Homo sapiens: one gene and its partner. The protein of the gene in region 1 interacts with the protein of each later gene in a pairwise test. Each region holds a gene or a part of one and is shown on either strand. Other genes may lie near its edges.

Region 1 (7,132 bases):
CCCTGACTTCTAAATTTTTTCTCCATTCTTGACCCCCTGACAAAGAATCAAAATCATGGCTCAACAAACTGCTAGCTTCTGTCTCACAAATAGTAACTTTGTCTTCTCAATTAGATTAAGTTCTTGGTGGCATTTCATTTATAACCATTATTTGCCTCTAGATCACGTGTTCCATATTTTTCAGGTTGACACTGGCCTCAGTCATGAAACTGTCCTTGAAATGCCCATACTTCTACATCTCCCAGCTGCTTCTCATAAAGTGACATACAAATTCTTTCTCCAATCAGATGTTTCCCAAATTTTGTCATCCATAGTATAGTCATTATATCCCAGGACAGCTCTGAGTATCAAAAAGGCACACAGGGGGCTGGGCGCAGTGGCTCACGCCTGTAATCCCAGTACTTTGGGAAGCTGAGGTGGGCAGATCACGAGGTCAGGAGATCAAGACCATCCTGGCTAACACGGTGAAACCCCCTCTCTACCATAAATACAAAAAGAAATCAGCCAGGCGTGGTGGCGGGCGCCTGTAGTCCCAGCTACTTGGGAGGCTGAGACAGGAGAATGGCGTGAACCCGGGGGCGGAGCCTGCAGTGAGCTGAGATCGCGCCACTGCACTCCAGCCTGGGTGACAGAGCGAGACTCCGCTTCAAAAAAAAAAAAAAAAAAAGGCACACAGGGAGGACTTGCTTTCAGGGGGGAAAAAAAAAACAAAACAAAACAACTGCGTCCCTTTATTGCTAGGATATTTTTTTGGGGGGGGCGGAAGGGGCCTTTTAATACAACTTTTTGCTCACATTGATTTATTCACCTCAGAGTCTTAAAGAGTTCACAAAACAAACTCAAGTCCAAGCCTCCAGGGCCTCCCACAAGTGCAGGGCAAGCACCAACACATAGCTGTTTACCATTCCTTGGTTGGGGAGCTGCAAAGAGTGCTCAAACCTTGGGAAAATGCTCACACCCCAGCCTCCCCAGGACATTTTAAGACCAGAGAGAAAATTACCCATTGGCTAGAACCCAGGTGTTAATTGCCTACTGGGGAAGGACATACTTCACATGGAATTATTATTATTCTTATTATTTTGAGACAGTCTCGCTCTGTCGCCAGGCTGGAGTGCAGTGGCATGATCTCAGCTCACTGCGACCTCTGTCTCCCAGTTCAAGCGATCCTCCTGCCTCAGCCTTCCAAGTAGCTGGGACTACAGGCATGCGCCACCACGCCCAGCTAATTTTTGTATTTTTAGTAGAGATGGGGTTTCACCATTTGGCCAGGATGGTCTTGATCTCTTGACCTCATGATTCACCTGCCTCGGCTTCCCAAAGTGCTGGGATTACAGGTATGAGCCACCACGCCCAGCCACATGTAACTTTTTAAGACTACCAAATTCCAGCTGGGTGCGATAGCTCACGCCTGTAATCCCAGCACTTGGGGAGCCCGAGGTAGGAGGATCACAAGGTCAAGAGATGAAGAAGGGCCGGGCATGGTGGCTCACGCCTGTAATCCCAGCACTTTGAGAGGCCGAGGCGGGCAGATCACCTGAGGTCAGGAGTTCGAGACCAGCCTGGCCAACATGGTAAAACCTGGTCTCTACTAAAAATACAAAAAAATTACCCAGGCGTGGTGGTACGTGCCTGTAGTCCCAGCTACTCAGGAGGCTGAGACAGGAGAATCACTTGAGCCCAGGAGATGGAGGTTGCAGTGAGCCGAGATCGCGCCATTGCACTCCAGCTTAGGCGACAAGAGCAAAACTCCATCTTTAAAAAAAAAAAAAAAAGAGATCAAGACCATCCTGGCTAACATGGCAAAACCCCATCTCTACTAAAAATATAAAAATTAGCTGGGTGTGGTGGCACATGCCTATAGTCCCAGCTACTCGGGAGGCTGAGGCAGGAGGATTGCTTGAACCTGGGAGGCAGAGGCTGCAGTGAGCTGAGATCCCGCCGCTGCAGTGAGCTGAGATCCCGCCACTGCACTCCAGCCTGGCAACAGAGACTCCAACTCAAAAAAAAAAAAAAAAGACTACCAAATTCCATATTTGACCCCCTTTTAACAAAGTAGCATTAGTAGAGGGTTTTCAGTCCTTAGTACCCACACCAGTGTGCAGAGCTGCAGGATCACAAAGTAAAAAGAAATGTCCCCTTCGCTCAAGGAAAAATTTGGCCAATTATTTTAACACAGCTCTGCAAACACAAAAACCCTTACTAGCCCACACAGACTTCCTTGGGGTCAAGCCATCTAGGGTAGCCCTAGGTCCCTGCTGTACACATCCAGGCAGCTTAGGGCCACCTGACAGAGAGGTAAGCTGTTATCATAGAAACAACTTCATAAAGCTCCAAAATCAGACAGGTGTGGGACTGAATTCAGGTCCAGCCAGCCACTGGCCAGGTGCCCATGACCAAGCTTGCCTCTTCCGAGCCTCAGCTTGCTCAGCCTACCTCTTGGGGTTGTTGTGAGGGTACAGTGAGGTAATGGGCGCACCTGGCACAGCTGCAAATGAGGTCGTGGAAATAAAGCAGTTCTGAGTTTGACACAGGTGGCAGCAAATACCAGCTGGGGCATACCAGCAGGAGTTCATACTAACTGTATGGCCTGGGGCAGGTTACTGAACCCCTCTTAGTTTTTTAAAATGCAAAATGAGAAATGGTGATAGGGCTTGCAGGACCACCATGAAAATTAAACACAGTGCATAAAATTAGTAATATAAGGCCTCGCACACAGGAAATATTCAAAAACCATCGGGGCTCACACACACCTCCCTGCACATTCGGTTTTGATGGACAAGTTGATAATTACCACTGAAGAAAAAAAATTCGAACTGTAAACATGAAAGAATATTAAATCTGAATTGCTGCAGGGAGGAGAAGCAACTTCCATTAACACCAGTGGTCCATGCCAAGTGGCCCCGTGGGAATCCAGGACCCAACAACATTACTCCCTCAACCTTTTCAAGTTACAATTCTTTCTTTTTTTTTTTTTTTTGAGAAGAGTCACACTCCCTCACACAGTCTGGAGTGTAGTGGCACAATCTCGGCTCACTGCAACCTCCGCCTCCCAGGTTCAAGCAATTCTCGTGCCTCAGCCTCTCGAGTAGTTGGGACTACAGGCCCACGCCACCACACCTGGCTCATTTTTGTATTTTTAGTAGAAATGGGGTTTCGCCATGTTGGCCATGCTGGTCTCCAACTCCTGGCCTCAAGTGATCCACCAGCCTCAGCCTCCCAGTGCTGGGATTACAAGCATGAGCCACTGCACCCAGCCCCCAAGTTACAATTCTAAAAGGCCTAGACAGTAAACTTCTTACATGATGTGTGAGAATGATGAACCTGCTTTTTCAACAGCATCCAAGATTTACAGCCTTTTTGAAGGACAATGACATCTTCTCTCCCCATTTCCTTTCCAAATGTCACGCCATCCATCATCTTCAGACCAATATTCAGAAACATTTCAGTGTCATTTTTGAGTTCCTACTGCACAGCCAGCAGGTGCTAGACATCTTACACACCTTCCCATAAAGTCCTCTGGGCCAAGGTTCCCAAATTTGGTCCCTAGACTGGCAGCATCAGCAGCACTTGGAAGCTGGCTAAAAATACACATTCTCTGCCAGGCACAGTGGCTCATACCTGTAATCCCAGCACTTTGGGAGGCCAAGACAAGCGGATCACTTGAGGTCAGGAGTTTGAGACCAGTCTGGCCAACGTGGTAAAACCCCATCTCTACTAAAAATACAAAAAATTAGCCGGGCATGGCCGGGCGCAGTGGCTCATGCCTGTAATCCCAGCAGTTTGGGAGGCCGAGGCAGGCGGATCACAAGGTCAGGAGATCGAGACCATCCTGGCTAACACGGTGAAACCCCATCTCTATTAAAAATACAAAAAAATTAGCCGGGTGTGGTGGCGGGTGCCTGTAGTCCCAGCTACTCGGGAGGCTGAGGCAGGAGAATGGCGTGAACCCGGGAGGCGGAGCTTGCAGTGAGCTGAGATCGCGCCGCTGCACTCCAGGCTGGGAGACAGCGAGACTCCGTCTCAAAAAAAAAAAAAAAAAAAAAAAAAAAATTAGCCAGGCATGGTAGCACACACCTGTAATCCCAGCTACTCAGGAAGCTGAGGCAGAAAAATCGCTTTAACCTGGGAGGTGGAGTGCAGCGAACCAAGATCGCGCCACCGCACTCCAGCCTGGGCAACAGAACAAGACTCTGTCTCAAAAAAAAAAAAAAAAAGACACATTCTCAGGCCTCCCCTCCCTAATGAGAAACAATGGGGTGCAGCCCCAGCCACGTGTTCAGCAAGCCCTCTGGGTGCTTCTGCTGCACACAGGAGTTTGAGAAACAAGGCTAGTCTATTTCATGAAGTAGTGATTACGAGCCCCCCTTTAGAGATGAGGACACCAAAGCTCAGTGATTAAAGTGCCCAAAGCCACCCAGCCAGGAGGCCCATTAGTACCCACACCTCATTCCAAAGCTATCTGCCACATGGCCTTTGAAGCCAAATTAACTGTACCACTTGGTGTTCTCAGCTATCGAGCTGCTGCAACGTGCAACTACCTAAGAGGGGTGGGACCAAGAGGAAAAATGAAGCCTGCACTCAGAAGTGATTAATTATAAATGCTTTTAAATCCACATCATGCATTAGCCCTAAACAATCAGCCGTCCCCCAGGATGAGCCTACTTTTCCCTGTTCTATATATCAGCAGGGTTACCATGAAGAGAAGATGGGGAGTCCCTTTATTTACAGCCCTTTGCATGTCCAATTCCTTGTATTGCTTTGAACAGAAAGAGAATTAAGTTACCTGTCCTGTCTCTAGAGGGCTTGAAAGTGAAGCACACTCTGCCTAGACCAGGACCAACAGGAAACAGAATCAGGAAAAGGACTTTCTATGCCCAGGAACGAAGCAGGCTCCAGCACCTAGGTACTAGGGGAATGAGTCACAGAAAGAATCCAATGCATGGATAGGGAGCATTTTAACAATGTTGCGGATCTGGTTCAAAAGAAGACAGGTTTTTTGTTTTTGTTTTTTGAGACAAGAGTCTTGCTCTGTCACCCAGGCTGGAGACTCACTGCAACCTCCCCTTCCCAGGTTCAAGTGATTTTCCTGCCTCAGCCTCCTGAGTAGCTGGGACTACAGGTGTATGCCACTATGCCCGGCTAATTTTTGTATTTTTTTGGTCAAGACAGGGTTTTGCCATACTGGCCAGACTCGTCTCAAAAACTCTAGGCCTCAAGTGATCCGCCCACCTCAGCCTCCCAAAATGCTGGGATTACAGGCATGAGCCACCGTGGCTGGCCTAGGCTTTTTTTTTTTTTTTTTCAGATCAAACACCAAATCTAGTGTCTCTCAGCTAAAATGATCCATTAATTATTGACATTCAAACCACAGTGTTTTCAAAGGTTCTAAGGTTAGGAAAGAGCCAGAAATCTCGTTATTCACAATTCCCAACCTTCTAAATAAACTTGGTGGTGACTTTCAGACAACAAATTTATTCTATTATTTAAATGAATACCTATTATTTTGTGGGGCCTTCTACAGGGGCCAGTGGAGCAGAAGGGACCCAGGCCTGGGAATTACACAGATTCACTTTGAATCCTGGCTGTGCCAGTTCCTCACAGCTTACTTAACCTCTCTGGGCCTCAGTTTTTCTACTCACAAATGGGTGATAATCCCTATGTTAAATGTTGATGGAAATTACAGTGGTTTAAAAAAAGGCTGCTGAAACGGCTTTCAACATATACTTATTTCACTGTATTTGTTTTTCTAAGTTTCTATTTTTAGTTAACTTGAATGAACTAGTTAAGCAATAAAATTCCATTGACGAACTTATCAGAAAGTTTGTCAATTTTTTTTTTTTTTTTTTTTTTGAGACAGAGTCTTGCTCTGTCGCCAAGCTGGAGCACAGTGGTGCGATCTCGGCTCACTGCAACCTCTGCCTCCCAGGTTCAAGTGATTCTCCTGCCTCAGCCTCCCGAGTAGCTGGGACTACAGGTGTGCACCACCACGCCCAGCTAATTTTTGTATTTTTAGTAGAGATGGGGTTTCACCATGTTGGCCAGAATGGTCTCGATCCCTTGACCTCAGGGTGATCCGGCCGCTTTGGCCTCCCAAAGTGCTGGAATTACAGGCGTGAGCCACCATGCCCGGCAAGTTTGTCAATTTTCAAAAACTCAACAGATGGACATAAACATTCATTTCACAATGCATCTGACAAAAAACAAATGTGCTCTTCCCATCCTCAACCACCTTAATCATATCACCCCACCTCCCTCAGTCCACTGTTAACTTGCAGTGTGTCTCTTCATCCCCATGAGACTTGGTCCTCGAAGTAGGTAACAGGTATAATAACATTTTGGAGTCCAACAGATCTGTTCAAATCACTTACTGGCTGCGCGACCTCGAGCATGTAACTTAAGCTCCCTAGGCCTCAGTTTCCTCACCTGCAGATGAGGTGGATAAACCTATGCAACTGACACACAATTGCTGAACCAACAGTAGTGATTTCAGCAACAGTGCGACAGAACAGTAGGGAGCCATAAAAATGTGCTCCCCTGCCTCGAGGAATACTGGTGACAAACCTTTACTGAGCATCTACCATCTATCAGAGACCGAGCCTGGTACTGGAGAAGTAAAGACAAGCTGACCACTGGCCTCAAAGACGTCACAGTGTCACAAGAGCCCCAGATACACGGACAATGTCGTAAGTGCACCAGCAGACTGTGTGGGTTGGTGAAGGTAGGATAGCAGAGAAAAAGGGGCCAAACATCGGACGAGCTAGACGGCAAAGTATTGACAGAAGAGGTCTGTTTACACCGAATACATGAGTTAAAAGTCCAGCAGACAAAAAAGGGATACAAACTACGTAATTCCTCACATCTTTTCCAGCCTCAACTTCCCCGAATCCAAGGCCGGCCATGGTGGCTCACACCTGTAATCCCAGCACTTTGGGAGGCCAAGATAGGTGGATCACTTGAAGTCAGGAGTTCGAGATCAGCCTGGCCAGCATGGCAAAACCCTATCTCTACTAAAAATACAAAAATTAGCCGGGCATGGTGGCACACGCCTGTAGTCCCAGCTACTCGGGAGGTTAGGCAGGAGAATCACTTGAACCCAGGAGGCAGAGGTTTGCAGTGAGCCAAGATTGCGCCA
Region 2 (7,000 bases), on another chromosome or scaffold:
GGAACCTGGGTGCCTAAACGCAACAGGAGCCAAGGCACAAATTTAACCAAACACCAAGGTTGCGTGAGGCCCCATTTCATGAGCCGGGCTCCAAGGACGTGTCCTTAGGCGGCTCTGGAAGGCCCAGCGCCAGCCCCCGTCCTCTGTTAAAGGGAGCCAGCCCCGCGGCTCCGCCCAGGCATGGTAGCCTGAGCGCGCCCCCAGGGTAGTAGGGGGCACCTGAGGAGCAGGGTCTGCCCTGGCATGAGCAGAGCCCAGGATGGGGTCAGGGTCAGGCCCTGCCAGAGGCTGGAGGGTGCCCAAGGCGAGGCCGGTGAGGCCCAGCTCTACAAATAAAGTGTTTTATTTACAGGAGTTGTCTCTCCAGGTCCCAGCTCCCTGCCACCCCCACCCCAGCCCCAGGGAGAAGAGGGCGGATGCCAGAGGAGCTGGCAGAGGCTGGGCAGGTCCTGAGTGGGCCAGGCTAGGCCAAGAGAGAAGGCACGAGGCCCTGGGCGCCCCAGTCCCAGGGCAGAGGCCAGGCCTGCCTGGAGAAGGCAGCACGGGGTCAGCTCTCAGGGGTCAGGCTGGGTTCCACGCCGCCGCAGCTCTGCTCATAAGACGGTGGGGCCTCTGCGGGAAGAAAGCAGGGTCTGCGTGGGGCTCTTGGCGTCCCCTCCCTGCCAAGCCCTGGCTGTCGACTCACCATAGGGGTAGCCCCAAGAACTGTACTCTGGAGGAAGAATCAAGGTGCTGGTAGTGGGCACTGGCCCCCCGGAGCCCTCTGCAAAGTAGGGGACAGTGGCACCTGTTGAAATGCACAAGGGAGGGTGCAGCGGGTGTGAGGCAGGGCTGCCATCCTGAGGGCAGGGCTCCGGCGCACCAGGCACAGAACTCAAGGTGGCCAGCAGGGGCTGCCGCTGCGAATGGCTCTTGGTGGAGAGGAAGACGGGGTCCAAGAAGTGGGGGCCGCCAGCCGCAGCCTCAGCCTCAGCCTCCTCCTGGGGTGGTGCGGAAGGCACCACCAGGGGTGGGGCCCCAGGAGGCAGCCCCAGGCCTGGCCGGGGGCTCACTGGGGCATGGTTCACAGCAATATTGCCAATGAAGACCGGGAGGGTCACAGTAGCTTCCGGCGCCTTCAGAGAGACCTGGACAGGATTGAGGTGGGGCATGAGGGGCCAGGGCCAAGGCCACTAGGCCTCAGACCACCCAGCCCCCAGCAGCACCAAACCTGTAAGTAGTAGTCGATGTGGATGAGGCTGCAGCCCGGCAGGGCCGACTGGGGCAAGGCAGGCACCAGGATCTGCTCGTGCCACTGCGCCCGCCGCCAGGCCTTGACGCCCGCACCCTCCACCTCCGCAATGGTCCGTACGTCGTGGATCCAGCGCTTGGCCTTATAGGACACTTTCTGGGGAAGGACCAGCCTGTGAGCCTGCGCAGGCTGCCAGCCCACCCCAGGAGGCCGGTCCAGGCAACTGGCGGGGGCTCTGACCTGCAGCAGACTGGCCACCACAGGGCTGGTGTCCTTGCCTGACTGGTTCTCAACGTCGGCATGCAGCTGCAGTGCCTGCCCCACCACATAGCCGCGGAGATCAGTGCTGGCTGTGAGGACCACGCTGCCCGTCTTCACCAGCTTGTAGGAGAACTTCTTGGTGGCAGAGGCCACGTTGGGTTGCTTGGGGGGAGGGCCAGGGAGGGGCTTAGCAGGTGTGCGCAGGCTGGATCCCTGTGGCATTGGGACAGGCCCCTCAGCCCTGCCACGCCCTGCCCCTGGACATCAGCAGTCAGCTCAGGGCAAAGAGGCCACTGCCTCCAGACCCTGGCCCCCCTCACCTCAGCTGGGGACAGGACGCTGGGATGAAGCAGTGCCTGCCCAGCTCTTCCCCAGCCTCCATGAGGGTGGGGACCCACCAAGGAGGTCACTGTGCCATCCTCACCTCAATGTCTGGGATGCTGTTCAGGTTCAAGGGGCTCAAGATATAGAACACGAGGCTGCACTTGTGATCCTTGGAAAACCGTGGCGTGTGGATGGCGGCCCTCACCTGGTGCACGATCTTCCCGAAAGGACCCTCAAAGGACGTGGGTGCAGTGGCTGGGGAGAGAGCAGGCACTGGTACCTGGCTGCCTTCCACCCTGCAGAGCCCACCTCCCAGGACCAGTTGGTCATCACCAGGCCTGTCCAGGCTGGGCTCTCACCAGGAAGCAGGAACTGGAAGGGGAAGCTGTGCTCTCCAGCGGGCAGGCTCCCTGCAGAGACAGGAGGGAGGTGGGGGGCAGTCCCCCCCTGAGGTGGCCTGAGGTGGCCACAGGGCCAGGATAAGAGTGGGCACTGCAGCTGACCAGCTCACACTGGGTCTCCCTGTCTCAGTCACCAGCGCCACAGCAGCACAGGGCTGTGGCTTGGGTGAAGGACTGAGGATAAGAGCTTGGCTTGAACAGGAGAGTGGTTTGGGAATGGGGCAAGGGTGAAACAGCTGTGCCAGGGGTCAGAGCCCACCCAAATCCAGCACAAGGGGGAGGTGGCCCCTTCAGCCACCCAGCGCCTATGAGAAAGCCATCAGGGCCCACAACCCTGGGACAAGATGGGCCAGTGCCAGATCCAAGAGGCAGATCTAGGAAAGGGGGAGGACAGGACAGACAGGCCCCACTCCAAGGGCTGCCCCCAGGGGTCACCACTCGGGAACTGGCTCCCAAACTTACCCTTGTCTGCCAGCGACAGGGAACTGTTGAAGTAACCCTCCTCCACTACCCACGCTGTGTCATTAGCCTTGTTGGAGACCCCGCAGGAACCTATGCAGGTCACCCGGATGGCTGCAAAGGGGATGGCTGCATGAGCCCCAGCCAGCCGACGGCCCAGGCCCCTGCTTGCTGCCAGCACAGGAATTCGACCTGGGGCCAAGCAGCACCACCTGGGCAGGGTCCTGGGAAGGCCAGTGAGCAAGCAGCCCATGCCACTTCAGAGGACATCTGCCCATCTCCTGTCTTGGGGGGCTCCAAGGGAATCAGGCAGGCGAGGGGCCTGACCAGCACAAAACGACGTCTGCCCTGCAATCCAGAGCAGAAAGACCCCAACGCTCATCCAGATGATGGCTGGGTTACCCCCCAGATTGGTAACCTTGGCTCCCAGCCAGACCTGCGAAAGCTCAGCTGCCTACAGGAGACACTCGGGACACACCAAGGGGCGCATCTTCTTGCTGCCCTGTGGACAAGTCAGTCAGGCAGGGAAGGACCCGTCCACACTCCAGGAAGCTAACTGCCAACCATCATGCTGCAGGAATGTGGCCAGACCCGCCTAGGCAGACACAGTGTTCCACAGTCAGCACACCGTTGGGTGGGGCCCTACTTCCTGGGCGAGCACTGCCCAGCGGGGCTGACTTTCTGCATCAGGAGACGGCTCAGTCCTCTCCGGCCTCCCTGGGGGAGTGCCCAGACCAGGAACTGCTTGAGGCAGAGGTGGCACTGTTCTGTGGCCAGGAACACAAATTCCTTAGTCCAACAGATGTGTGTCCAGAAACCATGATGATCAGAAGATCATGGCTGGACAATCAGGTCCAGCAGAAGCTGGTCACAAGGGAGGACAGACGCAGCAGAAGTACACACAGCACAAGACCCAGGTGGGCAGGGGTTGGGGGAGACAGTGGCAGGCCACCTGCACCTCCAGCCCCTCTTCTCCCTGCAGGGCTGAGTCAGGGCCAAAGATGGCCACCTCCCTGCCTGGTCCTGGTGGGGGTCACGTGAGGAAAAGGTGACTCAGACTCTGACACCTGCTGAGGGAGCAGCCAGGCAGGAGGAGTACCGGTGTGCCGAGCGCCCAGGGTCAGCCATACCTGCCTCACCTGTGGTCTCCCCAGCAGGCCCCACCTGTGGCCCAGGCCTTCTGCCTGCCACCCAGAGCAGCAGGATTCCTCTCACAATCCTTGGCTCAGCCGCAGCCCCACGTGGCTCTCCACATGCATCCTGCCTACCCCTCGGCAGCTGCCAGGCCCAGTCCCCCATCCCTGAGGGTGGCCCTTGCTTCCTGCTGCACGCCCTCTACCCCCGGGCGCTGCCAGGGCCTGTCCTCAGCCTCCATTCCAGCCCAGCCTTGCCACCCCAACCTCGGTCCATTTTTTGTTTTTTTGTTGTTGTTGTTGTTGTTGTTGTTTTTGAGACACGGTCTCACTCCCGCCGCCCAGGCTAGTGTGCAGTGGCACGATCTCGGCTCACTGCAGCCTTAACCTCCTGTGTTCAAGCGATCCACCCATCTCAGCCCCGCAAGTAGCTAGGACTACAGGCACGTGCCACCACACCTGGGTTTTGTTTTTTGTTTTTTGTTTTTCTTATAGAGACAGGGTTTTGCCATGCTGTCCAGGCTGGTCTCAAACTCCTAAGCTCAAGCAATCCACCTGCCTCAGCCTCCCAAAGTGTTGGGATTACAGGCATGAGCCACGGTACCCAGCTCTGCTCTGATTTTGAATCCATGCTCTGTTAGCCAGGCCCTCCTCGGGCCAGACCCCATACTGTGTTCATGCTGAAAATCCGGAACACCAGTAATCCTCCTGTGGACCAGCAGACAGCCCAACAGAAGCACATGGGCATGAGCAGGCACAGAGGAGGGTGGGCGTGGCTGAAGCAAGGAGAGGAGGCCTGGGGACTGGAAATGCTGCCGTGCTTTTAACACTCCTGACAGACTGCACATCCCCACCTTGAATCCCGCAAATGCTGGGACCCAGCTGGGTGCAGTGGCTCACACCTGTAATCCCAGCACTGTGGGAGGCCAAGGCGGGTGGATCACTTGAGGTCAGGAGTTCAAGACCAGCCTGGCTGACATGGTGAAACCCCATCTCTACTAAAAATACAAAAAAGGCCGGGCACGGTGGCTCATGCCTGTAATCCCAGCACTTCGGGAGGCCAAGGCAGGCAGATCACCTGAGGTCAGGAGTTCCAGACCAGCCTGACCGACATGGAGAAACCCCATCTCTACTAGAAATACGAAATTAGCTGGGCATGGTGGCACATGCCTGTAATCCCAGCTACCAGGGAGGCTGAGGCAGGAGAATCGCTTGAACCTGGGAGGCGGAGGTTGCAGTGAGCCGAGATCGCGCCACTGCACTCCAGCCTGAGCAACAAGAGTGAAACTCCATCTCAAAAAAAAAATACAAAAATTAGCCAGGCATGGTGGCACACGCCTGTAATCCCAGCTACTTGGGAGGCTGAGGCATGAGGATCACTTAAACCCAGGAGGCAGAGGTTGCAGTGAGCTGAGATCGCACAAATGCACTTTAGCCTGGGTGACAGAGCGAGACTTCATCTCAAAAAGAAAAAAAAAAGAAAAATGCTGGAACCCACAGAGGATGCCGGAAAGGGGGCAGTGGTCCCCAGACTAACCCGTATGCCAGCCAAGCACCCTCAAGTGATCCCAGCTGGTGGCACAGAACTGAAGATTAACCCTGCCCTCACTGTCCAGATTCCTAACCCACAACGCTGTGAGATATAATAAAATGGTTGTGTTAACTGTTTTAAGAATGGTGTCTGACTTGAGGTGACCGCGACTTTTACGTAGCAGTAGGTAACTGGAACAGATGTCCAACCTCACTAGAAATTACAGAAAACCCGGCCGGGCGCAGTGGCTCAGCCTGTAATCCCAGCACTGTGGGAGGCCGAGGCGGGCAGATCACGAGGTCAGGAGATCGAGATCATCCTGGCTGACACGGTGAAACCCCCGTCTCTACTAAAAATACAAAAAATTAGCCGGGTGTGGTGGCGGGCGCCTGTAGTCCCAGCTACTCAGGAGGCTGAGGCAGGAGAATGGCGTGAACCCGGAAGGTGGAGCTTGCAGGGAAAGCCCAAATGACCTACCATTTCAATCCATCAGATTGACAAATATTAAATGTCTCGACACAGCTGGGCGCAGTGGCTCACGCCTGTAATCCCAACACTTTGGGGGGCCAAGGCGAGCGGATTGCTTGAGGCCAGAAGTGTGACAGCAGCCTAGGTAACACGGTGAAACCCCATCTCTACCAAAACTACCAAAGATTAGCTGGGTGTGGTGGCGCGTGCCCCTGGTCCCAGTCACTCAGGAGGCTGTGGTGGGAGCCCCGGAGGAAGGAGTTGCAGTGAGCCAAGATTGTACCACTGCACTCCAGTCTGGGTGACAAAGTGAGACCTCATCTCAAATAAAATCAATGTCTTGGGGCCAGGCACAGTGGCTCACGCCTGTAATCCCAGCACTTTAAGAGGCTGAGGCGGGCGGATCACCTGAGGTTCGGAGTTCCAGGCCCGCCTGACCAACACGGAGAAACCCCGTCTCTACTAAAAATACAAAATTAGCCAGGCCTGGTGGCGCGTGCCTGTAGTCCCAGCTACTCGGGAGTCTGAGGCAGAAGAATCACTTGAACCAGGGAGGCAGAGGTTGCGGTGAGCAGCTGAGATTGCACCACTGCACTCCAGCCTGGGTAACAAGAGCAACGTAAATAAATAAATAAATAAATAAATGTCTCAACACACGTTGGAGGGAGGTGGAACACAAACACCCCTTATTCCAGTCAAACTGCAGACAAGTACGAGGTTCTGGCAAAGAGTGGGACAGGTCTACTGTAATTTTACCTGTGCATACCAGGAGACCCAGAATTCCGCTTAGAATCTCATGGTATTTAACCGGGAGCCTCACACGCCACTGCTCCTACTAGCAAAGCATCGCGAAAACCGTCATGGGACATTGACTCCACAAAAACAAACAGTATGCAACTGACCCTTGGGTCATCCTAAGGGTCCAGGTTCTGTGATCTTCCCAACGCCCATGCAGATGGCCCCGTTTTGCACATACACCAAGGCTCTTTGAGATGACTCTGCCAGAGTAAGCAGCCTCCAACCACTGTCCAAAGTGAAACCTGTCCCGAGCTGCCCCACACACTCCTCAGTAAGAACACGGGAGGCAAGGGGCTCCCGCACAGCTGCCAGCTGCTTCCCTGCCAAAACACCTGGAGCTGCTCCTCTGCCTCTCAGCAACTGCTTCAGGTCAGGCTGGGTGAATTTCCCAGGG

The links.
Region 2: the proteins of EPN2 (region 1) and ARRDC1 interact in binary tests that used the Homo sapiens proteins (3 or more experiments, as listed by UniProt).

The regions. Positions count from the first base shown.
Region 1 is NC_000017.11:19,240,303-19,247,434, reverse strand, and holds part of EPN2 (epsin-2), read right to left. Parts: intron 1-7,132. UniProt on the Homo sapiens protein: Plays a role in the formation of clathrin-coated invaginations and endocytosis.
Region 2 is NC_000009.12:137,608,686-137,615,685, reverse strand, and holds the end of ARRDC1 (arrestin domain-containing protein 1), read right to left. Parts: intron 3,264-7,000; exon of another isoform or gene 2,930-3,263; coding exon of another isoform or gene 2,791-2,929; coding exon 2,680-2,790; intron 2,227-2,679; coding exon 2,176-2,226; intron 2,072-2,175; coding exon 1,917-2,071; intron 1,706-1,916; coding exon of another isoform or gene 1,655-1,705; coding exon 1,472-1,654; intron 1,388-1,471; coding exon 1,211-1,387; intron 1,128-1,210; coding exon 686-1,127; coding exon of another isoform or gene 613-685; coding exon 548-612; 3' UTR 326-547; downstream 1-325. UniProt on the Homo sapiens protein: Functions as an adapter recruiting ubiquitin-protein ligases to their specific substrates. Through an ubiquitination-dependent mechanism plays for instance a role in the incorporation of SLC11A2 into extracellular vesicles.